Linked DNA regions of Homo sapiens: region 2 is linked to region 1. Evidence: fine-mapped expression QTL. A gene starts in region 1. The other region holds a variant in brackets. All regions are shown on one strand. Distances are from middle to middle.

Region 1 (9,634 bases):
ACACCTGGCTAATTTTTTTTTTTTTTGTATTTTTAGTAGAGATGGGGTTTCACTGTGTTCCCTGGGCTGGTCTCGAACTCCTGAACTCAGGCAATCCACCTGCCTTGGCCTCCCAAAGTGCTAAGATTACAGGTATGAGCCATCACGCCCGGCCTTCATGTACTTTTAAAAATATGCCCTGTACCCTATTATTTTTTTCTCTTGTTGTCAAGGAAGCTTGAAATTCCTTCAAATTATACAAGAGTCAATCGCAATAGTGTGTTTCTGAAATTTCTATAAATGTATGAGAAGGTGCTCTCTTAGGTGGTGATATTTTTTGAACCAATACACATCACTACACTCACTGAGAACTCTAGTTATTTTCACAAGCCATCTCAATAACCCCAGGCTTTTCTCAGAAGGACTGTCATAGATACACTCACCAGAGCCCCCACACTTTTATGGGCAACACAAAACTCATACAGTAAATGCAAAAACACAATAATAATCAAAAGAAGGCAAAAATATGACCTGAATGGTACCTTCACTGAAGGGCAGTGAGGCAAAGAAGGCCCTAATACCCTTTCCCTACAAATTCCTTTACTTAATTCTTTTTTATCTTCTGTGACCTCAGAATTTGATTGCTATATCAAATTGGCAGAATACCATATAAAGCAATTTATGGCTTTGAGGTGGGGTAGATTGCTTAGCACTGTTTAGGTCTGAAAGGACCTCACAGAACACCTAGTCCAATCCCCTCATTTTACCCAAGAGGAAAGAACGGCTCAGAGAGGTCACTGGACTTACAGAGGTCACACAGATAATTAGCGATGAAGCAGTGACTGAGGTCACTGGACTCCCAATACATTAACCATTAAGTGCTTTAATTGGGGATAGAAGATAAGGAAAAAAGGTGAAAAAATAAAAGACAGAGTGTATTTAGATTTACTCTTTGTGACCTTAGGATCCTGATGGAAAAATACTATCTTATGTAGCCTAAGAAAAAACAAGTTTTGGTTTCAAGGCTCCAGTAAAGAGAAGGTTGTACAAATTCTTCAAATATTTGGTTCTGGCCTCTTTTTCTCCTCCTTCTGCTTTCCTGTTAGGCTAGTATGTCTAATGGTTCATTAGGGAGTCTCTATATTAAGAAAGCATAATGGTTTATCTTCTATTTTCTTTGGTTCATTTCCTTTTCCCAGTGGGAAGTGATAACTTAAACATGGACTAGGTATGTACAAATTGAACATTTTTCTTGGGTACGACTAATGCAACAAGATTTAAGTAATCACATGTCCTAAATATAAAGAGAATAAATAGTACACATATAATTTTTCAACTCCTCTGCAATAGTTTTTGTGATGTAATGCTTAGGAATATAAGGAAAATGAGACAAAAACTTTTCAATTGTTATTTTATATTTCTAATTTGTGCTGTATCATTAGACAAATGGAATAGCATCTAAATATTTTACAATTAACCAATTAGCCCCATTTATGTTAAAGAATTCCAAAGTCCCTGTGAAGGGATAACTTGATCTGTAGAGTGATGAAATTCATGGCTTAAGCAAAGTTTAGGAGTGAAATAATATCTATAGTTAGTGTGATCAAAGGCTTATTTTGGCCAAGATTTTTAGTAAATATTAACAGTATAGAGAAAAATCTTGTGTTGATAATGAGATTTTCATGACCCTGTTTGAGCTGGAGTGCATAAGCCTTCTTTACTTTAAAAAAGCAGTCACAATTTTTGTCAGTGCGTTATCCTTTGCTGACTATGTGGAATTTTTTCCTACCTTTAATTGATTTAGGGTGCAACCTACATCTGGGTATATATCCCTAAAGTGTCTGGTTCTGAAATAAAAATGAAAGTGGAAAGGTATTGAAGTGGGATGAAGGGGCCACTTGAATTGCCTCAGGGAATCTCCTAACCAATTTTCATTTGCCTCATTGGTGCCCTTGGATAAAAGAGAATGGAGGTCGGTTGCAGAAAAGAAAATCAAGGAATCTTCAAAAAGTCACGTGCAAAAAGCAACACAAAAATAGGAGGGAAGGAGTTTTTTTTTACAATAACAATGCCACCTTTGTGTGCTGCGACTTCCTGATTATATTTCTTAATCACGATAGGTAACCCTCCCCCAAAATCACCATTTTGTGGACCCAGGAGCAAAATTATACGGGGTCTACGTACCCAAAACATTAAAAAAATTCAACTCCTTCGGAGTAACCAGGTAAGATAATGAACGCAGTCATACACTGTTTGGGATCAGGTGTTCTTCTGCATTTGCTTTTATTTGGATGAAAGAATGTTTCGTGCACAATGATGACCTAAAACTGGTAAACAAGCCTGGAGAGAGCGCGGTGGCTGGTTGCAGCTCACGTCTCCACGACTCCTGCAGAAGGAAATTACGTTCTCCCCTTCCCCCCCGCACCCCTACCCCTACCCCAAGCCCCCGGGAAGCCCTGCGCTGGCACCAGGGCAAGCGCCTGTCGGCTCCCGGGAGCTAAGCGAGGCCGCGCGGTCTGGGACGCAAATGGGAGGGAGCAGCCGCTGTCGCCCTGCGGGGCCAGGGCCACTGGGTAGGCGCAGCGCGGGCCAAGAGTGGGAGGCTCAGGGCAGGGGATCCGCACTCGGGGCCATTCCTGCCGCGGCGCGCCCTGCGCTTCAGCAGTGCACAGGGTGGGGACCCCTCGAGGACAGTGGTGCGCCGACGGGTCTCTCGGCCCCTCCCTTTCCACAGGCCCCGCTGTGTGGTGAAGGAGCCAGAAGAGGCGACTTGGGTGTTGAGACCCGGGGCCAAACCGTGGAGAGTGTCTGGAGCCCACACTCCAGATTTCTGGACGCCGCAGTCAGTCCAGCAGGTTCTACCTGGAGCCGCCTCGGGGCTCAACCGGGAGGCAGCGGGGTGCAGGCGAGAGGGTTAATGCGCCCGGTTCGGTTGGTTTGAGGAGTCTCTGCTTTCAGCGACCCACAGGGCAGAGAGCCCAGGGCTCCGGCTTGATGTCCCCAACAGCTGGGGACTGGAGAGCTGGAGGGGTCGCAGACTCAGGCTAGAGTTTAAAGTGCGCCGCGCGGCGAGTCGCTGGACTCTTCTGGGTCTCACGTGGCTCCTGTGTCACATGGAGTGACAGGCCGGCGGAAGGCGCTTTAGTCGTCGCCCAGCGTTCTCCAAGGTGTAAGGAGGCAGGATCTTCCCATACTGGCGGCGCAGGGGGCCTCACGGCTGCGGACGCCCGCCCTGGATCTCTCAGCTCGGCAGATCCTTTGGGTGGAGAGGCGCTCTCCAGGGTCGCGGCGAAGGAGAGCGGCTTCTCGGCACGTCCCTCCGTATTTCTTCTAGATCAGCTCCGGCCCCACCGTCCAGGAGAGGGCCCGCCTGAGGACCTCTGTCTGTGCCGCGCGTGGTCAGCCCCGGTCCCCTCACTCCATGGCTGGCCCCTAGCCCTTCAGAGCGGACACCTCTCCTTAGGGATGCAGGGCGAGGAAGGGCGGGTGGAGCTGCGAACCCACGGGGACCTGGAGGACCTCTTGGCCCCCTGGAGAGGGGTACTATGAGAGGGATTCATGGGACACAGATTTGGGGGACTGGGTAATTTTACCCCCTTTGGCAACCATAAAAACCCTGAGCAAACGTGTCCATTCGCTATTTCGCAGAAATATACAATGCAGGCCCACACAGGCATCTCTGCGAGGCCCCCTAGTTAAGGGCGCAGCGTTCTTCGGAAGCTCTTGGTCTTGCTACCAGGGCGTCACCGGCTTTTCCGCACTGGGGACATTTCGTTTGGGCTCTGCGCAGCCGTTGCACCTAAGGCCCTGGGAGCTCCGCGTTCCTCCCCAGGCGCCCGGGACAAAGTGCCCGAGGGCTCCGCAGACGTCCAGCCCTGCCCGGGGCTCACGGCCGCCGGGGCTCTCCAACGGACCGTCGAGGGCCACGTTTTGCTGGGGTGTGAGCGACGATTCTTTTCCCGCCCTATGAGGCCCGCCACTAGCTAGGTGCCCCATGAGACGCCGTGGCGAGCACGGCTACCTGGCAGCTCGCCCGGGCAGCCCCAACTTAATTTCCTGCCCCTCGGGGCACCTTTCCCTCGAATAGCTCTCCTCGGCCCCTCCAGCCCTGCCCAAGGGGCCTGGAAATGTTCGCAGCTTCAAGAAAGGCTCTATTTAAGCACAGGATGGGGTGGGGCGGGCGGGGCCAAGATTGCCCTGGGGATTGAATTTATCTCCGCTCCCAGCGATCCCCGGCGGATAAAGCGCAAGTTTGTGCACACGGTCGACTGAGCCATTGGAAACCCAGCTCACGAACCGCAGCCAGGGAAACGGGAGTTTGCCCAGTTGTCCTTGCGGAGGGGTGTGCGGAAACGCCCGCGATGGGAACTTTCTGCAGATCATGTATGGAGGGAGCTCACAAAAAGGAGGAAGGGGAGCGCGGTGGGGAGGAGGCCGCGTGGGCGTGGAAGGTCCCAGGGTCCTGGGGGTGCCCGCCTGCTTAGGCGCAGGGAATGGCGCGGAGCTGGCTGGGGAAGGAGCCGATCACGTCCCGCAGGCTAATTGGCTTAAGAAATTTTGCAAGCGCTGGAAAAGGTCGTTGAAGGAGTTCGCTGCACGCGCACGCACACACATACACACACACACAAAATCTTAAAAAAAAAAAAAAAAAAAAAAAAAAAAGAGCGCCGAGCATGCGCACAGAGAGGATGCCATATTGGAATGAGCTGTAGTGGGAGCCGGAGGACCGGAGCGGGCGCGCGAGGGAGGCGGCGGGCGGGGAGCGAGCGGGCAAGGGCGGGCGAGCGAGCAAGCGAGCGAGGCCGGTGCCCTCCCGGGCGGCGACCGGGGCCTGGGTCCACGCCGAGGGCAGGACGAACTTCACCAGGTAGGACGCCGCGCCGGCTGCTGTCCCCGGCGCCCAGGCTGGCCGGAGAGCAGCCCTTCGGCCCGCAGGTTGAGTGCGCTGGTCAGGGGCTTTTTCCAGCCTAGGAAAAAAAAGGAAAAAAAAAAAAAGGAAGGAAGCCTGAGGGAGCTGGGGTTGGAGGTGGCGGGTGGGGGAAGGCTGGGGAGGGTGCAGGGGAGCGAAAGAGAAGGGCAGGAGAAGAAAGCGACTGCACTTGAGCGAAGCTTCAAACTCCTCTGTGCGCTCCAGGTTGTCATTTTTGCTTCCCGGGTCCCCTTCGCCTGCGTCTCCGGGCTCGGAAAAGCCGAGCCGTGCGGGAGTCCGTCCGGAGTTGCAAAGTGTCCTCCTTCCCCGGGCGCAGCCTGTCCCCTCCCGCCGCCCACCTTCCTCGTTTCTGCACTCATTTTAGCGACGCAGCCGCCGCTGCTACCTACCCCGCGCTCCCGCGTCTCCTCCGCGCTGGGGTCTCCCCTTTCTTTTGGTTTGGGTGGGAGAAAAAGATGGTGAGGACGGGGAATCGGAGACCGGCATGGGGGTAAAAATCGTGCAGACATTCGGAATCGCTCCCTTGGAAACATTTGCCTGAGCAACTGAAATAAAATTGGCAGTAGTAGTTTTGGAGCGTGCTCCAGCGAGGATGGTCTTTTTGTTCATTATTTTCTCTTTAAAGTAATATCCTGTCACTTAGGGGCTTTCCGGTTGTCTCCTCTTATTCGACCCCCTTTCAAAATTGCTGACTTGAGCTGGTTCTGGAGTTTATTTTTTAATATGCGTGCGTGGGTATGTGTATGTGTGTGTATGTTTTGCAGAAATCCGCCAAAATGCAACTGTAGGAACTGCGAGATGTATTTATTGATTTTGACCAGGGGCGGTGGGAAGGGGCTGGAGGGAGCTGGGGGATCCTGGAGGGTGGGAAGTGGCTGATTCTCGGTGGCCGGACACTCATCCAGAGCCTGATCCGTACTCGTGTTTTCTTGGAAGCGCCACAACTGCGGGGAAGGAGTCTTTAGAAACCGTGCCAGTTTCAATATGGCGGGCTAAGGTGGCTTTTAAAAACTGAAAATAAAGGTTTTGAGGTGGGAAAAAACCCAGCTGAAGTTTCCACCCCTTAGTTTCGACTCTCTTTGGCTACCCCAGGAAGCGCTTTAGCGAATTAAGTGGGGAAAAAAAGAAGGAATGGGCTGTCCGGTTTTTTTTTTCCGTGGTTAGAGTCTGTGTGTCAAGTCCATTGCTAGGGGGGAAAGGGATGGAGAAGTGCCCCTGGCCCGGACCAGGGCACCGAAACGCAACTGTCGTGTGTGCCTGTGGATTAGTGTGCAGGCCTGCGTGTGCGCAGTTTTTTTGGGTGTGTGTGTCAAAGAGAACCACCCCGAATGTGTGTGTGCGTCTTGGAACCAGACCCTGCCATGATTTGACGTGACAAACTGCGGACACGTGGTGTAAAGTACATGAGGGCAGAGGGAGTGATTTATTTTGTCTTTCTAGGAGACGAGCTAGCTCTCGCCTTGTGTGTGCTGGATCCTGCGCGGGTAGATCCCCGAGTAGGTGGGGCGAGGAGGTGCTTATTAAAAGGACTAACTGTCCCGGGTATTGGGTGCAATCGGGCTGCAGACGCCAGCCGGATTTCGTGTGTGCAGGGGGCGCGCTGCACTTAATAGTGGGCTCCTGCTTTCCTCCACGCCGCTCTGGGGTGGGAGGTGGGGGACCGGGACCGAAGCTTGGAGAAGACCAAAGTGGTGGTGGTGGTGGTGGGGTGGGGCAGAAGGGCGGGAGCGCGCGGCTCTGGGAGACAAGCACGTAGGGTCGAGGCGAGGGGTTGCCTTCCTTACTTTTGGGTTTCGCGCTCTAGGGAAGGTGGGGGATGGGGACAGCGTTTGGGGAAGAAATTGTCCCTTGCTCGGCTTAGGAACCCTCTCGGCGCATCGGAGAGGGGCATCTTCTTGTCTTGGCGGGCATGGAGGCCGGGCAGTCGCCGGGGGATGTGAGTGGGCGGCGAAGTGCGGGGGAAAGGTCGGCGTTCCAGGGCGGGGAGGATCTGGGAGTGGAGTTCGGAGACAAAATCGGGGTCAGGCAGAGGAGCCAGAGGGAAAGCCAGCAAACGCGAGCTCGGGTGAGAGCCACCGGAATGCGGGAACGCAGCTTAGCCGGGAACAGGGTTCCCGACAGGGGTCGCCCGTGGCCAGGACGCGGCCGCTGAACAGAGGTCGCGCGGCGGTTCCTGCCCGAGGGACCTCGTGGGCGGGGGCCACACGGAGGCCGCGCACGGTCCCCGGGGCTGGCGGGGGCAGGTGGGAGGACCTCCTCCGGGCCCGCGAACCTGATCTGGCAGCGGCCAGGTGCCTGGAAGCGTTTTTAAATGATAGGGTTACAAAGACATGTTGGCCAGGTTTGTAGTTAGCGCAGCAACGTGGTTTGCAGGAGCGCAGAACGAGGCTAGACAGGGTCACTCGGACGCCGTGCTGTCAGTGGGTGGGGGCCGGGAGCAAGCGGCACTGGCTTGGAGACCCCGCGGCAGGTGACCCCTCCCACCTGGGCAGCGAGGCTGAACGATGGCGACACGCCGGCCAGGACGCGTCCGTGGCTCCTCCAGCCTGCGTTTGGGCGCGCCCTCCCGGGGCCGGCTTTCCCATGGGCCCCGCGAGGTGGGGAGCAGCCTAAAATGGCTCTGTGCTGCGAAGCTGCAGTTTCAGCCGCGAACCCCTCCCCTTGTCCTCCTGACGTCGCCGCTGACAAGCGCAATTTGCTCCAAGGCCCCGAAACCCGCGATTTTGCACGAGGCCGTGCCGTGGAAGCGGATGTACAGTTGATTACAAAGAACATTCCACAGGGTTCTCGAAGGGCCCAAGTTTTTCCTTCTGGTGGGGAGGAGGGAGGAGCCGAGACTGGGCAGGAGCCCGGCCGACCACCGCTCTGGCACCTAGGGGCTCGGGGCGCACCAGTAGCTGGGGCTGGGGACCTGGATGCGCGAAAAGCCGAGGGAGTTCCCGGGGACGCGGATGGGGACCATTCGGGGCAATAGCCACGGACACCGGTGCTCGTGGTTGATGGCGTTTGTGGTGTCCGAGAATCCCGGGACGACGCTGGAAAGCCTGGGAGACCGTTCTCAAACTTCTGGAGACCAGCTCGCAGTTTCGCTTTCGGAATTTTCAGGATCTTTGGGCCTTTAAAGTTGGGTGGGATTCCAAGAAGGCAAGGCGAGGCTCGTGGCCCTGACGATCGGCCGCCCGACTTCTCGCTCACCCCAGCCTTCTCTACCTTGTCTCCCTGAACCTTGCCGAACCGAGCCGGGTTTGGGGTTCCGGGGCCCCGCGCACCAACCCCAGCCGCGTCCTGAGGGCTCCCGCAGCACAGCCGCGGCTGATCCGAGGCCATTGGTGGGAAACCAATTTAGACGAGGCCGACCCCTCTTGGATCTGGCTCGGTTGCCGCTGCCCACCACTCTCCATCCCCCCTCCACTCTTGCACCGTAGAGAAGGGAACTGGGAGACCTACTAGCGTGTCTACACCAAGGGAAAGAACCCATGTTCCAGCAGGTCGGAGAAAAGGAGAAAACAGGCTTAAATGTGGCCTCGTTTCCTGGGGAGGCTGTTGGGGGTGGGGAGGGAGTTGAGCGGGTAAGTGGGGTGGGGGAGGGGAGAGGCGTTGTTGCTCAGCAGGAATTGTTCCCTAGGCCCGCCCTGGAGATAGGAGGTCTCCTGCTTTTTCCCTACTAAGCATTAAATTTGCACACACTCTGCTTTCTCCCTTCCATAAATAAATACCGTCTCAGATCTTATCTTTGCTCTTGCTGGGACCAAGCTGCCTGCCTGCAAGAGAGTGGGAGACACCCACGCACTTCTCCACTTCCCTCCCCCCCCGCCAACCCTCTAGGTCCCCACCAAAGAGTTTACTGCTTGCAGGACCCATTCTTGGGCCGGTGCAGAACACTGCCCCGAGCCGGGGGTCTCGCAGCCCCCATCCTGGAATAGAGAGTGGTCATCCACTCTGTTCTGATGTGTGTTGCTGTAGAAGTGCCGGTGGAGGCCTGCTGAGGTGGGAACTGTTTCCCATTTCCCATTGGGATACATCCATCCTGAACCTCAAACAGCAGGTCCTGCTGGAGATGCGTTTCAGTAATGATGGAAGTCATACATCGCAGAGTTTTTCCTCTTCCTGCGTTCTTGCAGACATTATAGACTATTTTTTTTAACATTGGTTGTTATAAATAACTGGCTTCACGATTCTTGACTTAAAAGTCAAGACTTTTAAAAAGCCAGAAAAGGTTCCTGACTCTTCCCTGTTTCGTTTTCATCATAAAGCTTTCCTGGGAGTACTAAACACTTATCCATTTTTCCATTGCTGCCCACTCTAGCTAAGGTGGCTTTTTTTTTTTTTTTTAACCACTGCCCCCAAAGGACTCCCACATTTGAGAAGAAATAGTGAGCGATGGAAGCATTGCTTTGAGCAGTAAGAAAATGAGGTTCTATGTAATTGATACAGGATACTTTTGGGATCTAAGAAGTCCGTAAAGGAAATTTACTCTCCCCAGGCCCTACACTTATGCCTAAAAATTTTTGTCAGATTATCAGAGTTTTCTTTTTCTTTTTCTTTTTTTAAATAATTTGAACAAAAATAGTTCACTGTGGGATTTGAATGACCTACAGTTCTAGTATACTAGGGTTGGACATTTCTCTCTTTATATTTTATTACTCTGTACTTTTGAGGTTCATGGGTGCAGTGGTCAGAAGGAAATTTTACTCTGCCCTAAAGTAAGAAGTCATAAAGGTTTTT
Region 2 (9,634 bases), 220 kb after region 1:
ATGCTCCTCTTTCAGTACCAGAGCCTCTGTAGCTTCAAATTTCATTTTAGTTAAAGAGAACGAGGTAATGGAAGTAAAGACAGAGTGCATTGCTTTTCCTGGCCATCGGTGTTATTAGGAACTTGAACACTTTATGTGTAGGAGATGTGCAGTGAGAGCGGTTCACCCTGATCTGTTCTGCCAGAAATAGACGTCTCGGGGTGTGGATGCAGACATGGTCTTTGGCAAGGCTCAGTGCAGGCTGCAGAGTCCAGTTCTGGGTTCTGTCTGAGTGGGCCGCTTTATAAGAGAGGACGAAGTTTCTGGCAAAAGTGGTCTTTAATGCATGGCTCTACTCACTTGATGGGTGTTAGAGTTGAGTGGGGTTTGGCAGGACCACGAGCGTGTCTGGCCTCAATTCGAGGGGGTGCAGCGAGGGGAGGTAGGGGACCTGGGAGAAGCTGGAACCAGAGTCACTCAATGGTCCACTGAGGTCCAGACGTACCCCATAAGCAAACTCAGAACGAAGCAGGCCTTGGCGTGGAGGCACAGGCCCAGCTGGTGACCGCCCCTCACATGCTGGGCCTTTTACAGGATGCCCATGCCCAGTTGCATGGAGGGTGGAGTTGTTAGGCACAGGCAGTGGTGATGCTGTTTATCCTAAGTCACGTGTCCATGCTCAGTAGGGTCATTGTCCATTGGGAGCATCTTTTTCTATCCCAAATCCTTCTACCCCAACCTCTCCCGGAGTACCAGGGTCCCCAAAAGAGAGATAAACCATGATCTATGTCATATCAGGAGATTGCTCGCCTCCTATGACCAAAAGGGTCTTGTCGGCTGTTGCGTTCCTTTGCATTGCACGAGGTGTTCAGGAAATTTTTGCCTTGTAACTTACATACCATCTCATGAATCACCAGGCCTGTAGTCCTCACTTTATAGACAGTGTATCAGGCTAGTGTCTGTGTGTGAAAGAGAAAGCAAACCAGTGAGCCAGCCTGGGCACAAGAGGCCAACGGGGAGCGGAACATCTAATCTATTTACTCCTGTCCGTGGGTCCTGGAGTGACTGTTTCAGCTGCAGACACAGACCCATGATGAAGGTGAGAGCAGACCAGCCAAGCGCTCCTGGCAGAAACGACTCTGAAAACACGCACCTGGGTAGGGCGATGGAGCCTCTGCCTTCACAGGGACTCCACACATCATGGTGGGGGGACATTGTCCTTGGAGAAAATCCCAGGGTGGCTCTCAGAGACTTGGGGAGCCTTGTGGTTTTTCTTAGAATTTATTTGGCTTAAAATATCAGTATGTAAATGTCAGTGACAGTATCTAACTTCTGTTTTTCAGAAAAAAAGAGAAACATGCCTTTCATGTGGGCCATCTGTGGGCACCCCTTTGTGGGTTTTCCGCATGAGCTTCAGGGGTGCTGAGCAGGCAGGGGCTCTCCACTTGTGTTTGCTCGGCAGCAGACCTGGCCTGTCCTGTGTGCTGCTTTTTGGCAGTCCAGGTTCAGGAGCTTAAGAGAGGAACGTTTATAGAAAGGAAATCGATGAGCTGTAACCTTCTATAGAAAGGTAGAAATAGAACGCCTGATTTTCTGCTCTCTTTTTTCTTCTTTTGGTGCTTAAGAGTTCAGAGAAAGCCCCAGGAAGCCTGGCACCCAGGATGCTTTGCAATGAGGCGCTTCTCAGGGCTTGTTTTTTTGCTCCAGTGTAACTCTCCACCCCGTTTGCTGAGATGCTGGTGAGACCAGGGCACTCAGCTGAGGTCCAAAGACTGGGTGTGAAGGCGTAGACCAGCAGAATCAAAGAAGTAGTGCGGCACCCCTGAACCAGAATGCGGTGTGCCCCGGACCCCCGGCCCTGAGTCAGAGACGCCCCACTGCAAATAGTGATGTGACCTCCGACCCCCAAAGGGCTCAGGTGACTCTGGCTCCTGGTCACCTGCAGTTTGGGATCTTTCCAGTGGGACCTGGCGGTTTGGGATTTGGCCTCAGCTGTTATTTACGGTTTCGATTTCTGCCCCTGTGGCTGATGCATTAAGCGATTTCCCTCCGTGTTTTTGTTTGGGGTGTCTGGTTCTCACATCTGGGGAGTCTGTCATGTGCTGTTTGAATTTCCCCTTCATTGTGGAGCTCTGAGCATTTGTCCTGGGCTATCACTCACAACAACATGTACCTAAAAACTAGAAAGCTTTCTGGTCGGAATCCTGAAAGTCGGCTGCCCCAAGCAGCCTTCAGTGTTCATAGACTTGGTGGTAGGAGAAGAGCTTTCATTCTTCGAAGCAGTCGTAAGTTTATCGGTAACACCCAGGGGAGGAGGTGTTGAGGGAGTAGGAATGACGATCTCGTATTGAGGACTTTTCCATGTGATATTGGACAGAGGGAATGTCTTACCCAGCTGACCTCAGCGAAGTCAGTCCTCGGAATCAAAGACAGATGCAGACAGGCCTCTTGAAGATACTGTGCTGTGTTTTTGTTGCTGCTGTTTTCAATTTATGCTGAACATTAGTTAACCCACTAAGAATAATGTGCCAGGCTTACGGGTGGGTGTGAACTTGAACACACTCACATGGTCTGGGGTGCTGAGGGAAGGTTGGCAAAGGAAAAGTGCACATTTTTTTTTTTGCATGTCAGGCTTTTCTTTATTATTTTCTCATAGAGAAGACAAGATAAATTTGATGAACTTTCTTATCATAGCATAGGATAAGATTTTGTAGCAATGAAAAGCAATAGCAAATGATAACTCCTGAGCCTCCATTCATGTAGATTATATGGCATCAAATACTTGGAGTGAATTTATTGTTAATTTTTAGATGAACAGAATAATTTAATTTCAGAGCCCATATTGAAATTATTGAACTAATTCAAAAAATATCTATAGAGCACCTACTCTTGCCAGTTATGGTTGTATCTGCCATGGATACAGCAGCAAACAGAATGAAGTCCCTGATTTCCTGCTGCTTATGTCTTAGTGGGGGTGGATGGTGAACAAATAAGCCAATTACGGAATAATCCTATACTAATAATAAGACAAGTTATCCATGAGAGGCCAGAGAATGAAGGGAGGAATGTGCTGTGTACAGAGGATACTCGCAGAGACCTTTCTGATACGGACTTTGGAGTAAAGACCCGGATGGGGAGGGATGGTCTGGAAGGGTTTCCCCAGGAAGAACAATCCTAAGAGAAGAACAGAGCAGAGGAAAGGCCTGATCTGACCTGTTGAAAGGATCGCCCTGGCGGTTGTTGGGAGGTGAGGCTCTCAGAGCGTGAGGTGGAAGACAGGGAAGCCCCTGCCGGCAGGGTGAGAATAGACCCAGAGCTGCCCAGCGTTTCGGCCATGTGCTCTCACCAGGCATCTGGATAAGACAGTTTCAGGGACATTGTGGACACAGAAAAGCCCCATTGGATTGGGTTCCAGAGAGGACTGAAGAAGAGGAAAAGGCGCTGTTGAGTGTAGACTCTTCTTAAGGATTTTACTGTAAAAGAGCTGAGAAATGAGGTGGGGGAATGTGTTAGTTCGTTTTCACATTGGTGATCAAGACATACCTGAGACTGGGCAATTTATAAAGGAAAAGAGGTTTAAGGGACTCACAGATCCACATGGCTGGGGAGGCCTCACAATCATGGCAGACGGCAAAAGGCACGTCTTACATGGCAGCAGACGAGAGAATGGGAGCCAAGCAAAAAGGGGAACTCCTTATAAAACCATCAGATCTCATGAGACTTATTCACTACCACGAGAACATTATGGGGGAAACCACCCCTACAATTCAATTACCTCCCACAAGGTTCCTCCCACAACACATGGGAATTATGGGAGCTACAATTCAAGGTGAGATTTGGGTGGGGTCACAGCCAAACCATATCAGTGGAGGAAGATGAGACACCTAAGGTCCTATTAGTTTGGGGGCAGGGGCAGGCTCCCTGCTACCCTCTCTGATCAAGCACATAATGAACTGAACTCCAGTGTTTTGCAAAGCACAATAATTCAGTCTAACTGTGGCTAGTCATAGCAGCTGTCCACTTAGTTATTTTCATTAGGTAACTATAATACATGACATTGTCATGTGCACAGAAATTATTCAGCTCACAATTCCAAAGTTTTATAGAGAGCTTGTTGAATTTGGAGACGGATGATGTGGCATCAAGAAAAGCCAAGGGAAAAACATTCAATATCCGATGCTTTTCATAATTTAATTGCTGCCTGCTCCCAGGCTGAATTGAACTCCAGAAGGCATTTTCTTTTCGCAGTCACAAAATGCATCTCGATATGCAGCAAATAACATGCAGCTCTGGGGTTTTCTCAGCGAAACCCAATGAAAAGAATCTGTTGAAATTTTATTGTCTGTTGATAAACACTGTGTGCGTTATTGCAGTCAGTACTAATTAGATTTATTTTTAAACTGAGTTTCTGTAAATTGTACTGACAGTAAACAATAAAATCAGATGATTATTCTAATACAGAAAACACAAACGCAACAAAACTGCCGGTACCGCCTTGTCATGGCTTTTTAGCACCTTGGCAAGCCACATTCTCTTGGTGGGTGGCTTTGAGGCCCTTGGAACATAGCAAGATGTTACCCAGGCAGAGAAAAGGCCGTCGCCGGGCTGACCGCGTAGTGTAAAGTATTTTAAGAGTGAATCCTTAGTTACAACTTGAGAAAGCTTTGTTGTTTTCAAATAAATCAGGGTGCAAACCAAGCTGGTTACGTTCCAGAACACAACAGACCCGTGAAAATTGTGACAAGCAAATTCCATCCACATTCTCCCATCTCCTTCCATTTATTTTGTAATAGTCTCCATTAAAAGATAGTGCGTGTTTAGGCACTAGTGCCAGACTCCCATCTCACTCAGGTGTATCTCTTGCTCTCCCAACGGTATTTTGCTCTGAAATCCAAAATGTGAGCTCCATGCCTGGCGTGCTCCTTCCAACTTCCGCACCCGGACGGCCTGCAGGAGGCATGGGCACTGCGTGCTCCCCCGTCTTGTTCCTGCTACTGTCACTCAGTGGAGCTTCACAGAGGATCATTTCATGAAACTCCACACCATAGGCCTCTGCTTTGCACTCTCACGTTCTGTAAGGTCTTTATCCAAACAGCAGCAGCCCAGGAATGTGCCAGAACTCATCAATGTTAATCATTAATGATGATTTGCTTTTTGAAAGGTGAGCACCTTAGGGGTCTGAGGTCCTTGTCCCTTTCATTAGAGAAACTCATTGAGGTTAACAGGAACATCGTATCTCCCCAGGGT[C/T]AGCAGCTGGAACTCTTAGAAATGCCTGCTCTTTCTGAGCCCCATGGTAGACACATGCTTGTTTTCTTGGACTTGGGAGTGAGGGGTGGATGGGGGAAATATGATACTGGATGGCGCTGGATATTCCAGACTCTCTTTTAAAATATTCACATTTCAGAGGGTTGCCCTAGTATTAAATGTCCATGAATTGAGCCTGCAAGAGGAGAGTTTCACACAATTTGTTACCCTCCTTGCAAGCATGTGAAGCCTCTCCAGAAGTGTTGGCATGAGTAGATTGTCTCCGTTTCATTAGTTCCTTATGAAATCTGTAAAAATAGAATGAAATTCTCAGTAGCCTATCCAACTGAAGAGTAATCCTGTTGAAGTACAATAAATTGCTCTTTGGTGAAAATGGTTCAGCTTTTCTGCAACTAGAAGAGTTAATGGGAGTCTGCCACCCCCTCTAGAGAGTGGTTCACACTTTTCTAGCCAGAGAGATTGTATTTTACCACGCTTTTTGTCCATGGATGGTGAAACAACTCAGTGTTAGCCTGGCAAGTGTTCTATCAGACTTAATCACGTTTCTTCACTTCATGTGGGTGTAGTGGCGAGCTGTTCCTAAATGTCAGTGGTGTGGTTTTCAAAGCATCCTTGTGTTAGTAGGAATGAATGCAATTGCAGCTCAGTCTGCTTATTTTTTTCCCCAAAAGGTTCTTAGCATGATAATCAACGCAGCCTACAAGCCTGGAAGGGTATTAAGAGAATTACAGCTGGTAGAAGATCCCCACTGGAATTTCCAGGAAGAGACGCTGAAGGCCAAGTAAGTGTTTTCAATTCTGGAAAGCAAGGGTTTTTGTAATACTTCCCCATGCTACTTTGAACCTTGCCACTTCTCTTTGTGACACAGCCCTGAGAAATGGAACAAACTGAAGGACGTTCGTTCTGCAGTTCTATGGGCGACACGTAAATTTCTTGGCATTTTTGCCATACAGCGTTGCCTTAAGCCTTAGGATTCCTAAGGTGAAGTAGAGATTTCCTTAACTAATATTTTATTATGCTAAACATTCAGCATCATAAAAACTTGGTATGTTTCAGGACCAATAGGTTATTTGAGCAAAAGGGGGAAAATTGTAAAGAGGATATCCCTCATCATTATTATACTATGTTCATAAACAGCTCTTCATTTTTGATATTATATAGACTATGCTAAATGCAAATGCTCTCTTTTCTGGCAGTTGACAGTTCTCAAAGATAAAAGGAACCCGTGCATGTTTGGTCTGGGTTAAGTAAATGGCAGCAAAATCTGGGTTGGCGTGGAGTCAAGTAACTTTCTTTTATTTGGAAATAGGCTAATTGGAAAGGTGACATTTTTGCTTTCTTTAGGTTTCTTGACCTCTGAAATTGAGAGCAGGAGCCGTATCAATGTACTTGAACTTGGTTGTTTAGGCACATAGAAAAAGATCCGTTTCTAAGATAATTTTATGTTGAATAATTGTTTAGAGTGCTTGAGAGGACTTTTAATATTCATCTATGGGTTTCAAATAGAATAGGTTTTACTAGTTGACTTCTTAATGGTCATTGAGATGTAACATTTGAGAAATGATGTTTTTTTAAAAGAGTAAAACAGTTTTCAGTGGCTAGAGGATATCTAAGCCTCCTTTAGAGAAGGCACCTGCCCTATTCATAGTGAAAATTGAGAAATATGAAATAATTTGTATGATCGGTAATATTTTCCTCTATAGTTAACTTATACTAGTACTGTGACTGAAGATGTTTAGAGATTGTGCCACACTCAACATTCATTGCCAGCAATCCACTTAGCATTCCTGGTGTCATTTTTGAACAGCTCTGGGGTTTTAGATTCAGTAAAACTTATTTATGGTCTAATCATAATCTGCCAAATCACCAAAGTGGAAGAGAATATATGTAAATAAGAAGAGGGTTTATTTGCAGAAAATGGCAGGCCAATTAACGATGCTGCTACATTTCATCATTTCCTTCTTTCTCAAGAAATATTTAAGTGAGCTTCACCTATAGCTCAGAGAAAAACATGTTTTTCTAATATTTCATATTTTTCTGCTTTAAAGAGATCATTAGCAGTAGTGGCACATTTTCTTATAAGTTTGTAGTAGTAGTGGGGGCAGAAAACATAAGCAAGTGTTTATAATGGAGAAATCCTTCTTATTTTAAAACTTTTCTGCAAAATTCAATACAGTCCACGTACACCTAATGGACACAGATATAATAAAAGTACAAAAATCTTAGCTCCCATTAAAACCTTCCCTGCCTCTAAATAAGCCAGAAACTCGCTCCCGCTCCACAGTGAGAGGAAGTTCATTTTGCAAGTGTTTGCACTAGTTTTCATGTTACCAAGTCGATCAGAGCTTTTTATTAAATCCAGCCTGATACAATCAAAACAGACATGGTGAAACCCAGCTCTACTGAATTGTAAAGGCAGCATATTACCTATTATATCAAATATGACAAAAAGTTCCATGGCAAACTCTTACACAGCAACTTCTAATGAGAAAATGTCTGTCTGAACTGGGTTTCAACTGTGCGAGATCATAGCAGCGTCTCAAAGCAGCTGCTAATGATGACAGCTTTACAGTCAGCGGGAGCTCTCCTGCTCTGATACTGTGTGTTGAGTCACCTCTTCCCTTCTGATGTGAAATGACAACTTTTTAGATCTTGACAACTTTGCTATTTTCTTTGGTGCAAATGGGAGGAGAGAGAGCTGGCATCTTCCCATTTAGCTGAAAGGAAGGCATGTTTTCTGTCATGAATAAATTAACGTACAAGAGGAGAGACTCACATTCAAGACATTTGGTCCAGGCCAGGCGTGGTGGCTCATGACTGTAATCCCTGCACTTTGGGAAGCTGAAGCAGCAAATCGCTTGAGTCCAGGAATTCAAGACCAGCCTGGACAACATAGTAAGACCCTGTCTCTACAACAAATAAAATATTTTTATATATATATATATGTGTGTGTGTGTGTGTGTGTGTGTGTGTGTGTGTATATATAGTATGTATGTATGTGTATATGTATGTATATATATGTCATATATACATATGACATTCAGTCCTCTTGGTTGATTATGGGAGCTGTTGTACACAATTATAAAGACTGTTTTCAGGAAGAGAGGATGTGAGATTATCCCTAGGGCAGTGTGATTGCTCTCATTTGGCATCTAGGATTTCTGGTTGTTTTTTCCACCTCCTAAGAGTAAAGACCCATTTACTTGAGAGGATGAAGGTGTCTTTGTAGAGGTTTTGACTTGTAAATATAACGAAAACTTACACTGTTACCTACAATTGTCTCTGGGTGATTTTTCCCCTATTTATCCAACAACCGTACCTTTTATAGAAAGAAATTATTGCAATATTTGAACTTGTGAGGAGTCTATCATTATTACCTTCAACATGTATTGAAAAGCAAAAATTTGCTAGCTTTTATGCCAGGGAAAAAAAATGGCTTCTCATGTAGTTCATTTCTGTTCTGGAAGAGAAAATTTCTTTCTTGCCAATGAATTTAAATATGCTCAATTTACCTGCATTGTTTTGAATTACAGGAGGAGGAATTAGGCTATATCTTAGAGGGGTAAGGAAAAAAAAAGCCCTCCACCTCTCTGCATCTAGAGACATTTAAATATGTTTTTCAGCATGTTACAGAATCTTCTTGAGGGAAAATAAAAAGACTGTCTTAACTCTTCTTTGAATGGCTTTTGTGATCATCTTTATAAAAGCCAGGCAGAAGCTTAATAATTCTTCTAGTCCTGTGTTATAGTTATTCAGAATATTTAAAGAGGAAATATCCTGGTAGGATTTCACGTGAGTTAGAGCTCACTGTCACTTATCAGAGGGAAGGAGATAAAGTCAGATCTTCACTGTTAGGTGCGTCATGCTCAGCTCTGTGGAAATGTTGTGGTTTCTTTTTTTTCATAAGCAGTGGTTAATTTTGTGTGTGCTTTTACTTATTTGACTTTAATTTTTGTCCTTTTACGCAAGCATTTGTCTTATGAACTGTCGCAGGTAACATTTGGCTATAAAGTGATTTATGTAAAAAAAGGATTCCCTAACTGAGAGACTTCACCGGAAAAGGTTTTGTTTGTTCATTTGTTAATTTTGTTTACCTTGCGCAAGTGTATGTAGTTTGCTGTCCTGAAAACGCACGAGGTGAACTTCGCGTTAAGCAAAGCCATGAACCAGTCTATTTGAAGGGAAGACTGCATTTCTGTGTATGTGTGTACCTAAATTCACTGGATCACGGTGTGGCGTGTCTGATTCAAACAGGCCAGCTTAAGACATTCTGGAGGAGCAGTAGTCTCCTTGGGATAAACATACATGCCCATGTGTTGCAGAGTTCCCATTACTTAAAGGCAAGAAGGAAGAAAGAAATTTCTGAGGAGTTTGGGTGTCCTAAGGCTGA

The links. PIP is the estimated chance that this variant, and not a neighbour inherited with it, causes the effect.
Region 2: its variant is fine-mapped to the expression of SFMBT2 in whole blood (INTERVAL, PIP above 0.99).

Annotation. Positions count from the first base shown.
Region 1 is chr10:7,406,073-7,415,706 of GRCh38, reverse strand. It overlaps SFMBT2 (Scm like with four mbt domains 2), which reads left to right and starts at 4,673. Exons shown (of 21, transcript NM_001387889.1): 1 at 4,673-4,846. RefSeq lists enhancers at 2,584-3,503, 3,504-4,424, 6,776-6,855, 6,903-7,798 and silencers at 4,660-4,799, 7,016-7,355.
Region 2 is chr10:7,185,015-7,194,648 of GRCh38, reverse strand. It overlaps SFMBT2 (Scm like with four mbt domains 2), which reads left to right. Exons shown (of 21, transcript NM_001387889.1): 16 at 5,916-6,025. SNORD129 (small nucleolar RNA, C/D box 129) reads left to right here and starts at 7,865; the gene lies at 7,865-7,969. The variant C/T (reference allele first, on the strand shown) is at 5,227.